Linked DNA regions of Homo sapiens: regions 1 and 2 are each linked to region 3. The links come from fine-mapping of genetic effects on gene expression. A gene starts in region 3. Each other region holds a variant in brackets. All regions are shown on one strand. Distances are from middle to middle.

Region 1 (5,271 bases), 23 kb before region 3:
AAATAGAAGTATATGTCCAAACAAACACTTGTAAATAAATTTTAATAGCAATATTATTCATAATAGCCAAAAAGGAGAACCACCAAAATGTCCATCAATTGAGTAAAATGTGGTATAGCCATATGATGGAATATTCAGCAATAAATGAATAATAATCATTTATTAGTACCTGAAGTACTATTACATGGTACAACACAGTTGAACTTTGAAAACATTATGCTAAGTAAAAGCCAGTCACAAAAGACCATATATCGTTATGATTCCATTTATATGAGGTTTCCAGAACAGGCAAACCCATATAGGCAAAACTGGTTGCATAGGACTGACAGATTTGCAGTGAAACGGGGAAGTGACTGACAATGGGTACGGGATTTGTCTGTAGGGTGACAGAAATGTTCTAAAATTGATTGTGGTAATAACGGTTATACAAGTCTCTGAATATACTAAAAGCCATTGAATTGTACACTTTAAATGAGTAAATAGTATGGTATGCAAATTATCTTAAGCTGTGAAAAAAGAACAAATGAAGCTGTATAAATTATTCCTCAATTGTCTAGAATAATCAAAATAACACTGGATTAGCTCTTTTGTGGTTAGACAAAATTTGGCAATGAAACTATCTGTCCCTAAGGCCTTTTTCATGTTTCATCTTTCATTTTTCCAACTGTTTCTGTGGTATTTGTTTTCTTACTTCTCTGTAGATTTTGGTAATTTTCATTTTCATAGAAAAATCAAAATAAAACTTCCTCTGAGTTCCAAATCTGTTACCCTAAAGTACATGCAGCATCTTCTTTTTTTTTTCTCCTTTTTTCTGAGATGGAGTCTTGCTCTGTAGCCTAGGCTGGAGTGCAGTGGCGTGATCTCGGCTCACTGCAACCTCCGCCTCCCAGGTTCAAGCAATTCTCGTGCCTCAGCCTCCCAAGTAACTGGAACTACAGGCACAAGCAACCATGCCTGGCTGATTTTTTTGTATTTTAGTAGAGATGGGGTTTCACCGTGTTGCCCAGGCTGGTCTTGAACTCCTGAGCTCAGGCAATCCACTCACCTCGGCCTCCCAAAGTTCTAGGATTACAAGAGTGAGACACTGTGCCCGGCCCATGCAGTATCTTCTTATTCTGTTTTGTATATCTACGGTGATGCCTCTTTTCCCACTACTAATTTTGTATATTTTACTCTGTTTTTCCCTTCTTCCAGCTGATGAGATGCTTAGTAATTTTAACGGTCTTTTCAAAGAAACAGTTTTTTAATTTATTCTTTCCACTATTACATTTTTTAGTCTTTCACTAATTTCACATTTATCTTTCTTTCTTTTTAGTTTCTTTTGGCTTATCTTGATATTCCTTTTCTAATTTAACATGAGTACTAAGTTCCTTTATTTTTCACATTTGATTTTTTTAAATGAGAATTTTTTATGGCTGTAAGTTTTCCTCTGAGTACAGATTTTGCTGTTTCCCACTGGTTCTGGTATGTAATATTTCTGTTTTCATGATAGTTTATAATTTCAGTTGTTATTATTCTTTTAATTCCTCCTGTTAATTTGGAAATTCTATTGTTTTTCGACCATTATGGTTACACTCCTTTTTCTAGCACTCAAAAAATTTTCTGAACTATTTTATGAAACTATTTTATGAAATTTATGAGACATCAATAATCTCACAGAAGCTTCCCTTGCACTAAGATGCTTTATTTCTTCACTGCTTTCCCTCAAACTGTCACTAAAATACGAACTTTAGGATATTTTTATTCTCCTCACTCAAACCTATGAGACTTGTTTTCCAATTTCAAAGTTTTACTGAAAGAATTCGGTACTTGTAATTTCACATTATTCTTTCATTTTAGTATTTTTTTTTCTATTTTAAAAATCTATATTTAGTACATTATTTCACACACATAGTCTTATAAACACTGGGGGGGAAAATCCAAATTACTACCTGTAAAGTTCTATGGGAAAGATCCATGAGTTTCCTCTTGTATTGTGCAATTTTGGCTACAGATGTAGTTTGATTCTTTTGTAGCTCACTAATATCTTCAGATATGATCTGTTTAAAAAAAAATTGGGGGGGGGAGGGTTAATCAAATATCACAACTATTTATCAGTTACACCTGTATGGAAATTCTAATCTTGGGATAAGCCTGAGATTCATCTCTCAAAATATAAACTCTTTCCCTATAAATCTGTGCTTTATATTTCTTCCCTTTTTACATACCTAAAATTTTTTTAAAAGAATCATGCAAAGATATCTTTAGAGCTCTAGGAAATTTAGCAATGAGGCAATACATAGAAAAAATAAGCTGGGCGTGGTGGCTCACACCTGTAATCCCACCACTTTGGGAGGACGAGGCAGGCAAATTACTTAAGGTCAGGAGTTCAAGACCAGCCTGGCCAACATAGTGAAACCCCGTCTCTACTAAAAATACAAAGAAGTAGCTGGGTGTGGTGGCATGCACCTGTAATCCCAGCTACTTGGAAGGCTGATGCAGGAGAATCACTTAAACCTGGGGGATGGAGCCGAGATCGTGCCACTGCACTCCAGCCTGGGCAACAGAGTGAAACTCCATCTCACAGAAACAAAAAACAAAAAACAGAGTGAGACTCCATCACACACACACACACACACACACACACACACACACGGCTGGGCACAGTGGGTCACTCCTGTAATCCTAGCACTTTGGGAGGCCAAGGCAAGAGGAGTGCTTGAGACCAGGATTTTGAGACAAGCTTGGGCAAAATGGCAAGACCTTGTCTCTACAAAAAATATAAAAAATTAACCAGGTGTAGTGCTACATGCCTGTAATCCCAGCTCCTTAGGAGGCTGAGGTGGGAGGATCACTTGAGCCCAGGAGTTTGAGGTTGCAGTGAGCCGTGATCATGCCACTGCACTCCAGCATGGGCAAGAGGGAGAGGGAGAG[G/A]GGGAGAGGGGGAGAGGGGGAGAGGGAGAGAGGGGGAGAGAGGGAGAGAGGGAGAGGGAGAGAGGGAGAAGAGGGAGAAGAGGGAGAGAGGGGGAGAGAGAGGGAGAAGAGGGAGAGAGGGGGAGAGGGGGAGAGGGGGAGAGAGGGAGAGAGGGGGAGAGAGGGAGAGGGAGAGAGAGGGAGAAGAGGGAGAAAGGGGGAGAGAGGGAGAGAGGGAGAGAGGGGGAGGGGGAGGGAGAGAGAGAGACAGAGAGAGAGGGAGAGACCTATCTCAAAAGGAAAAAAAGAAAACACATACTTCAGAAATAATTAAGGAATCTGAAGTAACATGGAATACAGCCAACAACCAGGTCTGAGTGGAAAAAGTTAAGATGTGTAAGATGATATCTAGGGGGTGTCTTAATAGACAATTAGCCCTGTATCTAACTACTGACAGCAAGTACAGTACATTTCAACATTAACTGTTACAGAATACTTGGAGGGAGTAATCAGAGTGCAGAGGAAAAGGAATGATATTAATTATGCAGCAGGATACATTTTTATGCCTCTGGATCTTTGACTTGCTGTTTTACCTGACTGAAATCCCACTATTCTGCCTTAGGAAGTCTTAACCTTACAGGGTAGGTTAAAATCTCACTATTTTATTAAAGCATCCCAATCAGAATTAATCCCATAATTGTCTCTATCATAATTAATCATTCTATGCCACTGGCTTACATTTACATGTTACAAGAAAGAGGTTAAGATTGTGCAAGACATATTTTAGCACATCCACCTGCACACATCACCTTTTACAGAAACTTTCCAATGCCAGGCCATGCTGAAAGGACAAAATTAGGTGGCCATGTTTTATATTACAAAACCTAGGCAATCTCCCCATCCCAATTTTGAAAAATCACCAGGGTTTTTAGATACAAGAGTACTTACAACATTATTTTCTACCAGTAATAACTAAAAAAATTAGACATGTTATCAGCCACAGTATTTATTAACAAATACTAAAACCATCTAGGAATTGATCCAAGAAAGCCATCTAGGAATTGATCCAAGAAAGAACGCATGAGATTTTAAAAGGGAATATTTTAAAATTATTTTAAAGGACATAAAAGACTGCAAGGATTAAAGAGACATACCACATTCATGGATGAAATGATTTAATATTAAAATTCAATTCCCACAAATTAGTCTTTGCATTTAATGCAATTCCAACCATAATTCTAGCATTCTGACAAATTGATTCTAAAGTTTTTATGGAAGAATAAAGACCCATAAAGACCCAGAAAACTTTGAAAAGAAGAACCAAGATTAGAGATTCATGCTACTAGATATTAAGATACACTACAAAGCCATAAGACTAAAAAAATGTGGAATGGGTGGGTATAAGAACAGACCAACTGGCCAATGAAACATAAGAGAGGGTCTAGAAATAGATCACATATATATATGCAAACAGTGTAATTTAAATTCTTTGATAATCATTGAGGAATATCATATTTTTATAGGCAATATTAAAAATATAGGGCTGGGCGCAGTGGCTCACGCCTGTAATCCCAGCACTTTGGGAGGCCAAGACGGGTGGATCACGAGGTCAGGAGATCGAGACCATCCTGGCTAACACGGTGAAACCCCATTTCTACTAAAAATACAAAAAATTAGCCAGGCGTGGTGGTGGGCGCCTGTAGTCCTAGCTACTTGGGAGGCTGAGGCAGAACAATGGCGTGAACCCAGGAGGCGGAGCTTGCAGTGAGCCGAGATTGCGCCACTGCACTCCAGCCTGGGCGACAGAACGAGACCCCCATCTCAAAAAAAAAAAAAAAAAAAAAATGGACCCACTATTTAGAGAAAAATAAATCTGAGTTCATACCACATACTTTATATAAAGGTAAACTTCATGATGACAACAAAAGACTCAAACGTGAAAGGTTAAACTCTAAATTTTTTTTAATGTAGGATACTCTCAGACTTTGGGGTGAAAAATTATTTAAGCAAATTCCCAAAAAGAAAATACAAGGCAAACATTTAATGGATATCATTACATTAAAATTAAGGATTTCTCTTCAACTACAGACACCAAAGACAGAATTAACAAAGAGATGAGAAACTAGAAGATATTTACAACGTTATAAACAGAGACTACAATCTAGAGTAAATGATTACTGAAGTTCAATAAAGAAAAAATAGGAAGCCCAGTGGAAACACTGGCCAAAGATATGAATGATTTCAGTTCTGGACAAGATGGACTAAGCATATACAACCCCAATCTCTCCCATTTAATATAGCTATAAAACTTGGATGGAATACACGGGGCAGCTATTTGGGAACTCTGGCAGGAAGATCAGGTAAGATAGGAATTTAAAG
Region 2 (5,271 bases), 960 kb before region 3:
TGGGTAGAATCAATATGGTGAAAACGACTGTACTGCCAAAAGCAATCTACAAATTTATGCAATTTCCATCAAAATATCACTGTTATTCTTCACAGAACTAGAAAAACCAATCCTAAAATTCATATGGAACCAAGAAAGAGCCCACAGAGCCAAAGCAAGACTCAGCAAAGAGAACAAACCTTGAAGCATCACATTACCTGACTTTATTCTACAAGGCTATAGTCAGCAAAACAGCATGACACTGTTATAAAAATAGACACATAAACCAATGGAACAAAATAGAGAACCCAACGATAAAGCCAAATATTTACAGCCCACTAATCTTTGACAAAGCCACCAAAAATTGGGAAAAGGATACCCTATTCAACAAATAGTGCTGGGATAGTTGGCAAGCCACATGTAGAAGAAGGAAACTGGGTCCTCATCTCCCACCTTATATGAAAATCAATTCAAGATGGACCAAAGACTTAAATCTAAAACCTGAAACCATAAAAATTCCAGAAGATAACATTATAAAAACCCTTCTAGACATTGGCTTAGGCAAAGACTTCATGACCAAGAACCCAAAAGCAAATGCAATAAAAACAAAGATAAACAGATGAGACTTAACTAAGCTAAAAAGCTTCTGCACAGAAAAAATACAATCAGCAGAATAAACAGACAACCCACAAAGTGGGAGAAAAATTTTGCGATTGATAAATCTGACAAAGGACTAATAACAATAATTTACAAGGAACTCAAACAAATCAGCAAGAAAAAAACAAACAATTCCATCAAAAAGTGGGCTAAGGACATGAATAGACAATTCTCAAAAGAAGATAGACAAATGGCCACCAAACATATGAAAAAATGCTCTTAATCAGTAATTATAAGGGAAATGCCAATCAAAACCACAATGTGATACCACCTTACTCCTGCAAAAATGGCCATAATCGGACCGGGCGAGGTAGCTCATGCCTGTAATCCCAGCACTTTGGGAGGCCAAGGCAGGTGGATCACGAGGTCAGGAGATCAAGACCATCCTGGCTAACACGGTGAAACCCCATCTCTACTAAAAATACAAAAAATTAGCCGGGTGTGGTGGTGGGCACCTGTAGTCCCAGCTACTTGGGAGGCTGAGGCAGGAGAATGGCGTGAACCCGGGAGGCGGAGCTTGCCATGAGCCGAGATTGTGCCATTGCACTCCAGCCTGGGCGACAGAGCGAAACTCAGTCTCAAAAAAAAAAAAAAAAAAGAATGGCCATAATAAACAAATCAAAAGATAATAAATGTTGGCATGGATGTGGTAAAAATGGGAACACTATTACACTGCTGGTGGGAATGTAAACTGCTACAGTCACTATGCAAAACACTGTGGAGATTCCTTAAAGAACTAAAAGTAGAACTACCATTTGATCCAGCAGTCCACTACTGGGTATCTACCTAGAGGAAAAGAAGTCATTATATGAAAAGACACTTGCACATGCATGTTTATAGCAGCACAATTCACAATTGCAAAAAATATAGAACCAGCCCAAATGTCCATAAATCAACAAGTAGATAAGAAAATTGTGATATATATACATATCTATGTGTATATATATATATACATATCTATGTGTATATATATATATACATATCTATGTGTATATATATATATACATATCTATGTGTATATATATATACATATCTATGTGTATATATATATACATATCCGTGTGTATATATATATACATATCCGTGTGTATATATATATACATATCCGTGTGTGTATATATATATACATATCCGTGTGTGTATATATATATACATATCTGTGTGTATATATATATACACATATCTGTGTGTATATATATATACACACAGATATGTGTGTATATATATATACACACATATATATATAAAAAGAATGAAATAATGGCATTCACAGCAACCTGGATGAAATCGAAGACCATTATTCTAAGTGAAGAAATTCAGGAATGGAAAATCACACATCGTATGTTATCATTCATAAGTGGGAGCTAAGCTTTGAGGATGCAAAGGCGTAAGGATGATACAATGGACTTTGCGGACTTGAGGGAAAGGGTGTGAGGTGGGTGAGGGATAAAAGACTACACATTGGGTACAGTGTACACCGCTTGGGGGATGGGTGCACCAAAACCTCAGAAATCCTCACTAAAGAACTTACTCATGTAACCAAACACCATCTATTCCCTAAAAAAATTATTGAAATTTTAAAAAAAGAATCAAGAAGAACGGAATTCCTCCCTCCTACCACTGAATCTGCCTCCAAACTGCCCTGCACTTCCTGCGGGTATCTAGGAGCTGTAACACGGCACTATGTTCAAAATAAGCCATCCTACAAAAATTTCCCTGGAGAGATTTTTTGTTGTGTCCTTCTGTTTTCTTTTTCCAATTTTGTGTGGTTGTTGTTGTTGAGCATGCTTTTTAGTTCTTTAGTTTCATAAATAATAATGTGTTATTTTTTAAAAAGAAAAGTCTCACCATGAAAATCCAGGTTCAATACACCTACAATATACCCACAAAATTAAAATCTAAAAAAGAAAGAAAGAAAATCCAGGTTCTGGAACTAGAACACAGTTGATTCTTGACCTTGTTGTTTCTCTGTAAATATACCATCGGTCTATGATTAAAACTGACCCAAGCTGGTATTTCTACAAGGATAGAGGAATCTCAATGGTCTCATTTTAATGATGTGTTGGAAGGGGAAGGCGAAAAGATTAAAATCTCATGGACAGATATATTGTAAAAACTGATTAAAAATTACTATTTTACAATTTGATAGTATAATCTGATTATGGATTCTGTCTGTGAGCCATAAAGGCAAGAGGCTACTTTATGTCCACTCTTCATAATGAGGAAAAGCTCATTTTAAAAGTTGTAAGCAAAAGAGAGGACTTAGGTTGAACTCCTGCTGAATTTTGATCTACTTTCATTGATTTTGAACTTACATTAGTCCTTTCATTCTTCCATATATGAGCTCTATTAAATGCCCATTTCTCTGTCCAAGGGTC[G/A]GGGTGAGGCCTGGATATGTCCCAGATGGGATTTAGTCTGGACATAGAAGCTCTTCTCTGTCACACATTCTCCCTCCCATAGCAATGATGTCCCTGAGGGAGGATTGTTTTCCATGACTAGTGATAAAAGGCTCAAGCCTATACTCCTTACACTGAAAATCTGGAAAGAGGAGAATCAGGATGAACAGTACAAGGAGAGTTAACTTGAACTTTTCATTGTAAAATAGTTAAAATAATAAAATTTTCTTTCCATGAAAATCAAGACACTTTTGCTTATTTGTCTATACTCACTTACTGACTTAATTTGAAGAACAATCAAGGGGGGGGCAGGAAAACTAAACTAAACCCTAACTTTTTAGGGTGAAAACATCACACTATATATTGCTCAGCCTCCACCCTTTTGAGAGCTATCACCACCTGAAGAAAGTAGAGATCTCTCAACTCTTTCCTCTCTGATTCTTCCCCAAAGCAGCAAGGGAAGGTTCACAATACTGTGTGATTATCTTTCAAAAGCAAATCCAGAACATAAATGTGGTCTACGGATGGTTCACTTTTTGTGGTCCCTTTTCTGTCCAGGAATCAGAGGTGGCTCATCAAATGAGGAAACAAGGAATGCTTTATTTCTCAAATTACACACCATTTTTAACAAAATCCATAGGAATGATGAGGATGAAGAAAAGAAATAGTCTAAACTCCTCTTGTCAACCCCCAAGTTCCCATCACCAACACTGATGAACAGCTTTCTTGATCTCTCCAAAGTCAAAATTTCTTTGTCTACTTCTTGCTCCTGACATTGCTCCACCTTCTCTGAGGGTCTGGTCTCATGTGGGAAGCTATGAAATTCCAGCTCTTGCTGAGCATCTCAGACAGACTCTGGCTTTGCTGACAGTTCTTTAAAAAGGCAGCTAGCTTTCCCTGCACAAACCTGGGAGAGACTGCAATCTGGAACAAAAATGGAAATAGAACATTTAATACAGATATATTGCTCCTACACAACTAGGCAAGTCAAAAAAATAAATTTTAAAAATATTAACCAATACTGTATGCAAATTTTTTCCATGATAGCCTATGGAGGTGACAGGATAAAGTGAATAGGTAAAAGACCTAGGATTTGAATAGGATTGAGGAATGGAGAAAAAAAAATGTCTAAACATTTCATGGTTTCATTTTAGGCCAAACCAGAATTTCCCATGGGTTACAGTAGCTTTGTCAAAATGGCCACACACAAAAAATGAGTTGATTGCTTTTATGGATTAAGGGCAGGCAGCAGCAGTACAATTTCACTGCATTTTTCCTACCAAAAACCCGGAGAAAAAAAATCTCCCTAACATTACCAAGCCCTGTGAGCAGAAAATCCCACTGTCTTACAATCCAGGCATCACGGGAGTGAAACCTCAGAATCTGAGCCCCGAAAACACTTCTGGCAGTGATAGCAAGAGAGAACATCAAACCCAAAATAGGCAACAAATTTATCTGGGAAGCATTCCAACATCCAGATTCAGAGAGAAAGGGATCATTTCAAATATTCTGAATGGGAGTTGGATTCTTATAGAGTATTTAAGAATTTCAAAGTTACATTAAGTATAATCTCTATTTTACACTCAGACTCTCTCAAGGATCCTAACTCTCTGGCCTTTAGACAGGAACACCTCCCATAGACAGAGGCTACTGGTGCAAAGCTCCTTCCCTTGCCACGCAAAGGCTCCTCCTGCTCCAGGCTGTGCAGTAATGGGCTCTGCAGAGCCTCTGCTGGAGATCATCAATGGTTTGTCACAATCAGCACACCAGGGTTTCTAATTTCAAAGTGCAAATTTATTTCCAGCATTATAAACAACTGCCTTTTCAAACTTAAAGTCTACTTAGGACATACCGATCTTGCAAAATACTAGGGATACAGGAAAATGGCTGTGAAACTAAAATGATTTTTAGGAGAAAAGAGTGAAAGGGAAACTTAACATGACTCTGCATTTAAGAACGTTCCTGTGCTAGAGAAAAATTGAAAGAAGACCCCGGGTGAGAGTTTTTGTCCCATCTCAACTCCCACAAATATCAGTGAGGATTTTGTTTTACCTATTTATGATAAGAACAGATAATGCCATAATCCTTCAAAATCAATATCTGATTGCAACATGTTCCTTGTCTTAGATTTTCGGCTGGGGTCATTGCTTACTTCCTCAAGGAAGGCTCCCAAACTCTCATAACCCTTAAAACTAAAGGTCTATGCACTGCTGAAAGAAGAGGAGTAACATAGTTATCT
Region 3 (5,271 bases):
ACTTACCTCCAAACAACAAGAATGTGTTTCTTGAAGGAAGAGATTTGACAGATAAATGGAATGCTAGCCAATCTAAAATTGTTTTGTTATTTTTGTAACTTATTGTCAGTCTTCAGCTGATTACCAATGTGGTATCAAAAAGCCTTTCAAGACAAATGTTTGAACCATTAGTGTCGAATTATATTGCAGATTTTTTGGAATCTTCCTTTAATCTCATTTATTTCTGGTATACAACACAGATTCATCAATATTGCAATATAGAAAATACAAGAAGAAAAACATGCAACCATTTTATATTAATCACCTCATTCTGATTTGGAAAACTACTCAAGAGTAAGCTGCATGTTGCATGCAGGCACAACTAAATATTCTATTTACTTGTAGGTTCTACTGCAGTACTGCAAACTATAAACATTTTCATAAAAGTCACCCACAGTACTAAGCACTGTTGTAATTTCTTTTCATTATTCTTCACTTCCATAGAATAACTATGATATAATCTGAATTGGCTACGCAATAGAAACACTAGTCAGTTTCTCATCATGCTCCACAACATCAAAAATGTTTTAGTAATAGCAGATCTGCAAGTATACAAAATAAAAAGTAAACAAGAAAGTCTATCAGCCCTTTGCTGAAGGTTAACACATATAAAAGTAGTTAAAACATATTACATTATCATAACTCAAAACTTAACAGTGATAACTCCAAATGAACATGAAATCAAGCAAATACCAACAAGTTTATTTATTGTTGTTGAATTATGAGCTGGGTGGCTTTATTCAGAAACACAAATTTCAAAGTAAGATTTCTGTTTTACCCAGTGCCAATTTTAAGCAAACAAGGAAAAGTAAACACATCAAAGGACAGTGATATGTGATTACTTCGAATACATCTTAATTAAAATGCATCATCTTGTCTTTGAAGTTTTCAAATATTCTTCGAACTGTTTTCAACTCAGATGCTAGGGTGATAATCACATTGCAGTAACCAGTGAATGAACAAAATAACAAACTTCCCAATTAACTTTTAGGGAGTAAATAATGTTTATCAAATGCATATAATTGGCATGGGCACAAGAGGCATAACGTAAGAGACTATGGACGATAAATTCATATACGAGCAGCTGAAGAACAAGTTTTTTTCTACAGTGTCACTATGTAAAGTACCCATAAACCTATTTTAAATGTATATATCATTATTGTTTTGCAAAATTTCTAATGAGCTGCAAACAACCCACGTGCATATGAAAATCTTCATAATTATCTTTTTGAATGCAAAGACGTCTAGCTTACCTTTTAGAATTCGATGCTATATCACATAAAACTAAACTGCTCTCTTTGAGCATTTCCCAAAATTCCAGCAAAGAACTGGGGATTCTTTCTATAATTACAAATCTTATAGAAATTACACATCTTATAGTATCCTAATCTGCTGAGTTGACCAAAGAAATACATTATTATCATTATAACACAAGTTAAAAAACAAAACAGGTTACTGCTGTTCGTATAAGACTTGTTTCTCTTTGGAAACACAAGGACAATAAAATGAAATCTCAATGAAAGATGCAGAAAAAATGAAAAATGACTGCAGGAGTCCAAGAATCCCAGGATGGGCTTGACTGGTGGTGAGTTTATACTTTGGAAGTCCTACCTAATAATTTTAAAGATCTATTCAAAATTATAATCCAAATGCTTATCATTTGGAAGATAAGTGCACATTTAATAAAGGAACACTGTAACTTGCAAAACTTTCCTAAACCACATCTTTTAAGGCAGTAAAAACTTGATACAGATGTTTTTGATTCGAGATAAGGAAATAAATTTCCTTTCCCTATTAGACAAGTAACTGTTCTTTCCCAAACTCCAGGAACCACAATATTCTTGGACTCCAGCTCCCAACACTGGTTACACATACAACCCGCAGTATCTACCTGCACTTGCCAGACTGTTACCAAAATTGAACGGAGTCGCCGAGGTAGTAGAAACACCGAAATTCCCAATATTAAAGTTCACTGCAGGATTAGCAGTTAATCCGAAACCCCCAAAATTAAACCCACTGGCGGTGGAGTTGGCAGTCTCAAGCCCACCAAATCCTGATAGGCGTGTAGGCAAAGAAACAAAATTTTAAAAAGGGGGAGAGGGAAAAAGAAAAGAAAGCAAGATAAGGATTAGAAGAATCAGCAGGAGGTTTCACAGAAGTGAACAAACCTGGTTTTGCTCCAAACAGTTTAAGAAAGCAGAGTGGGGGTGGGGTGGGGCAGATGGAAGAAGCATGACGGATAAACCCCACAGCGAGGACCACAGGGGGCCGGGGGTGGAACTAAGGGAGTCAATGGGCAGTGCCGGTGGATCCCCAGCCCTATCCTCGCCGAGTCCGGCAGCGGGAACCACGCAAGCGTTCCCGCCCATCCAGGAGGCTGAGGTGCAGAGGGGAGGGAGGTTCTCGGGCAAGGGGAGAGGGAAGCAACCTCCAATTTCTCTGAGTAGGACTCCCCGGCAGCGGGAAGCGAACCGCTCAAGCCAGGGCCCTGTGGAAACTCACGCGCGGCAAGCGAGCTTCTAGTGGGACCCCGAGTACCCCCGTGGCCTCCTCGGGTGCCGCCTCGGCCCACTCTGCCGCCGCCCGCCCTTTTCCAATGCCTCTAAAGTCTCCGCGTCGGCGGGAGATTCCAGGATCCCCAGGTCGGAGAGTCTCGGACAGAGGGGGCGGACCAGACCCTTCCCCTTCTTCCCGGGTGAAGGTCTAGGGGGATCACTCACCCGCGGGGGCCGCGGTGGCTGCAGCGGTACCGGAGGTGCCCGAGGGAGCCCCAAAATTGAAGGCCATGTCGCGAAAGCAGGAGACCAAGTAGGTTACTCCTGCGACGCGCAGCGCGCTCCCCTTCTCAGTCCGGCCGGGAAACCGCCAGTCAGATCACCGAGTTCCGCCTCCTTTCTGACCTAGCCTAAGAGGCCGGAAGGCGCCAAGGGCGTAGGAGGTGGGTGGTTGTGAGGGAACGCCCCCAGCCAGCTCACTTCCGGTGGGCTTCACATGCTGTGGGGTGTCACTGTTAAGGTAAAATGCTGGGACGCTCGCGAGGGTGTGCCGCCTGAGAGTCCTTTAAAAACTGCCGTAGGGAGGTTCTTTGGGAAAGGTGTGCAGAGGCTGAAGTTGTTACTGTAGGGATACGCGGTAGACAGCTAGAATTTGTATGTGGTAGGGTTGAAGTTGCTGCCTCATCAACTAGCGGGCCTGGGAGGTCGGGCAGCAGGGCTGGGGTTGAGAACCCCCCCAACACCCACGAGGAGGTGGTATTTGAACCCAGTGCTGAAGGATGAGTAGACGGAGCAGAAGCAGTAAAGAGGATGCACGTTGGAAGAAATGAAAGCGAATGGAATTGTAGCAAACACGTTGCGTTTACTATGTGCCAGGCACTCTTCTAGACATTTTACATAATTTAATCAGCTATCTTATGAGGTGGGTTGCTGCTATCTCCAATTTATAAAAGAGGAAACAGGTACCAAAGGGTCAGGCTGTTTACAGAGTAAATACTCCTAACCACAGCTCTAAGGGGAGCACTGAAAAAGAGGGGAAGAGTGGGCCCCCTCTGTTGTACTTGTAATATAATTTAATCCTCAGAATAAATAAATAGAGAAGATTCTGTAACTGTATTTTGCAGGTGAGATGAGAGAATTGAGGTTTGGAGTTGTTAAGCAGCTTGCCCAAAGTCACCTTGCAGGTAGGTTCTGGAGTCTGGTTTTGGACTCATGTTTCTCCACTCCAGAGTCCCAATTTGTAAAAATTACCATTATATTATATTGCCTTGTAAATTATGGTAAGGATTTCAGACTATTTCTTGAGGGTAATGGGAAACCTTTAAGGGGTTTTAGGCAGAGGACTAGTATGACTAGAATTTTGTTTTTAGAAGATCCCTCTGGCTGCCATAAGGAGAATGGATTGGAAGGAGCCAGAATGCCTGAGGAAGATAGAGCTTTTAGGAGTCTGTTGTAGTTGCACAGGTAGGAGATGATAATGACTTGGATTACATCTGGCAGTGGAATTAGGAGAATAAATTTGAGAGATACTTAAGAAATAGCATATATGAGACTCGTAGTATTTGGACGTGGGAAGTAAGGATTCAAGGACAACCTCCTGCTTTCTGGCTTGGGCAAGTTGGTGAATGGTGGACCCGTGTCTGACTCCTACAAACTGAGTATGCTCTCATACCCACTGCCCTGCCTTCTTTCACTGTTTGTCACAGATAATTTATCAATCTAATTTTTCCTTACAATAGTATATATTCCATAAGTGCAAGAACCATGTCCCTCTTGTTCCATGCCCATCACAAGTGCCTGGCATATAACAGGGGGAAATAAATAATGAATGAATGACAGATAGGTGGAAACCAGATCTTGAAAGACCTTCCTTAGCATGTTAAGGAGCTTTGATTTACCAGCAGTTTGTCCAGCTGCGGCCCACAGGCCACATGTGGCTCATGGCTTAGGATGGCTTTGAATGCAGCCCAACACAAATTCGTAAACTTTATTGAAACATTGTGAGGTTTTTTGCGATTTTTTTTAAAGCTCATCAGCTATTGTTAGTGTATTTTATGTGTGGCCCAAGACAATTCTTCTTCTTCCAGTGTGGCCCAAGGAAGCCAAAAGATTGGACACCCCTGATTTAGCACATAGCCTAACGCTTAAGTACTTAGCTTACCTTAAAAAAACAAACAACCATTCTTCTTCTTCCAGCGTGGCCCAGGGAAGCCAAAAGATTGGACACCCCTGATTTAGCACATTGTCTAATGGCTAAGTACTCAGCTTACCTTAAAAAAACAAACAGCCCTCCCAGTCTAGCAGAAAGGAAAACCAATGATTAATTTATGGAATCTGCCAGAAGCTCAGGAATTGGAGATATCACGTATCTTCATAAGTTGGGGTAAAGGGAAGTTAAAATGAGAGGAACTGGTTGAAAGTCTATTTAAGAAGCAGTTAGAGCTCCCCAAATCCTCTTCTGACCTCGTGCAGCCAAGTGAATGCTTCTTCCCCACTCTAGAAAAATAATGGAGGATTCTTCTCTACAGTGATTAAAATAGTATTTGCCAGGCACAGTGGCACCAGCCTATAGTCCCATCTACTCGGAAAGCTGATGTGGGAGGATTGCTTGAGCCTAGGAGTTCAGCCAGCCTGGGCAACACAGTGGGGACTCCCCCCCACCCCCCGTCAGTGTAAAAAAAAAAAAAATAGTAGTGTCTCTGGACTTGGGGGCACCAGACATTATTGAGAGTGGGTA

Which allele goes with the higher level. Positions count from the first base shown, and alleles are read on the strand shown. Sizes are in standard deviations (SD) of each study's normalised expression. Not every link is listed here.
With allele G in place of A in region 1, the expression in monocytes after LPS of the gene that starts at base 2,849 in region 3 is lower (large effect, 0.75 SD a copy in Quach 2016).

Evidence for each region. PIP is the estimated chance that this variant, and not a neighbour inherited with it, causes the effect. A credible set is the group of variants that fine-mapping cannot tell apart.
Region 1: its variant is the best candidate, but not a certain one, in a credible set for the expression of NUP54 in monocytes after LPS (Quach 2016, PIP 0.53).
Region 2: its variant is the best candidate, but not a certain one, in a credible set for the expression of NUP54 in whole blood (Lepik 2017, PIP 0.65).

Annotation. Positions count from the first base shown.
Region 1 is chr4:76,122,718-76,127,988 of GRCh38, forward strand. NUP54 (nucleoporin 54) reads right to left here. Exons shown (of 12, transcript NM_017426.4): 9 at 1,932-2,039. Among named protein-coding and RNA genes, the nearest start is that of NUP54, 23 kb to the right of the region's middle. The variant G/A (reference allele first, on the strand shown) is at 2,914.
Region 2 is chr4:75,185,466-75,190,736 of GRCh38, forward strand. No RefSeq gene overlaps it. Among named protein-coding and RNA genes, the nearest start is that of LINC02562, 100 kb to the left of the region's middle. The variant G/A (reference allele first, on the strand shown) is at 3,015.
Region 3 is chr4:76,145,549-76,150,819 of GRCh38, forward strand. NUP54 (nucleoporin 54) reads right to left here and starts at 2,849. Exons shown (of 12, transcript NM_017426.4): 1 at 2,760-2,849. The coding sequence starts at 2,826. LOC124900718 (a long non-coding RNA gene) reads left to right here and starts at 3,001. Exons shown (of 2, transcript XR_007058144.1): 1 at 3,001-3,054; 2 at 3,659-5,271. RefSeq lists an enhancer at 2,799-2,958.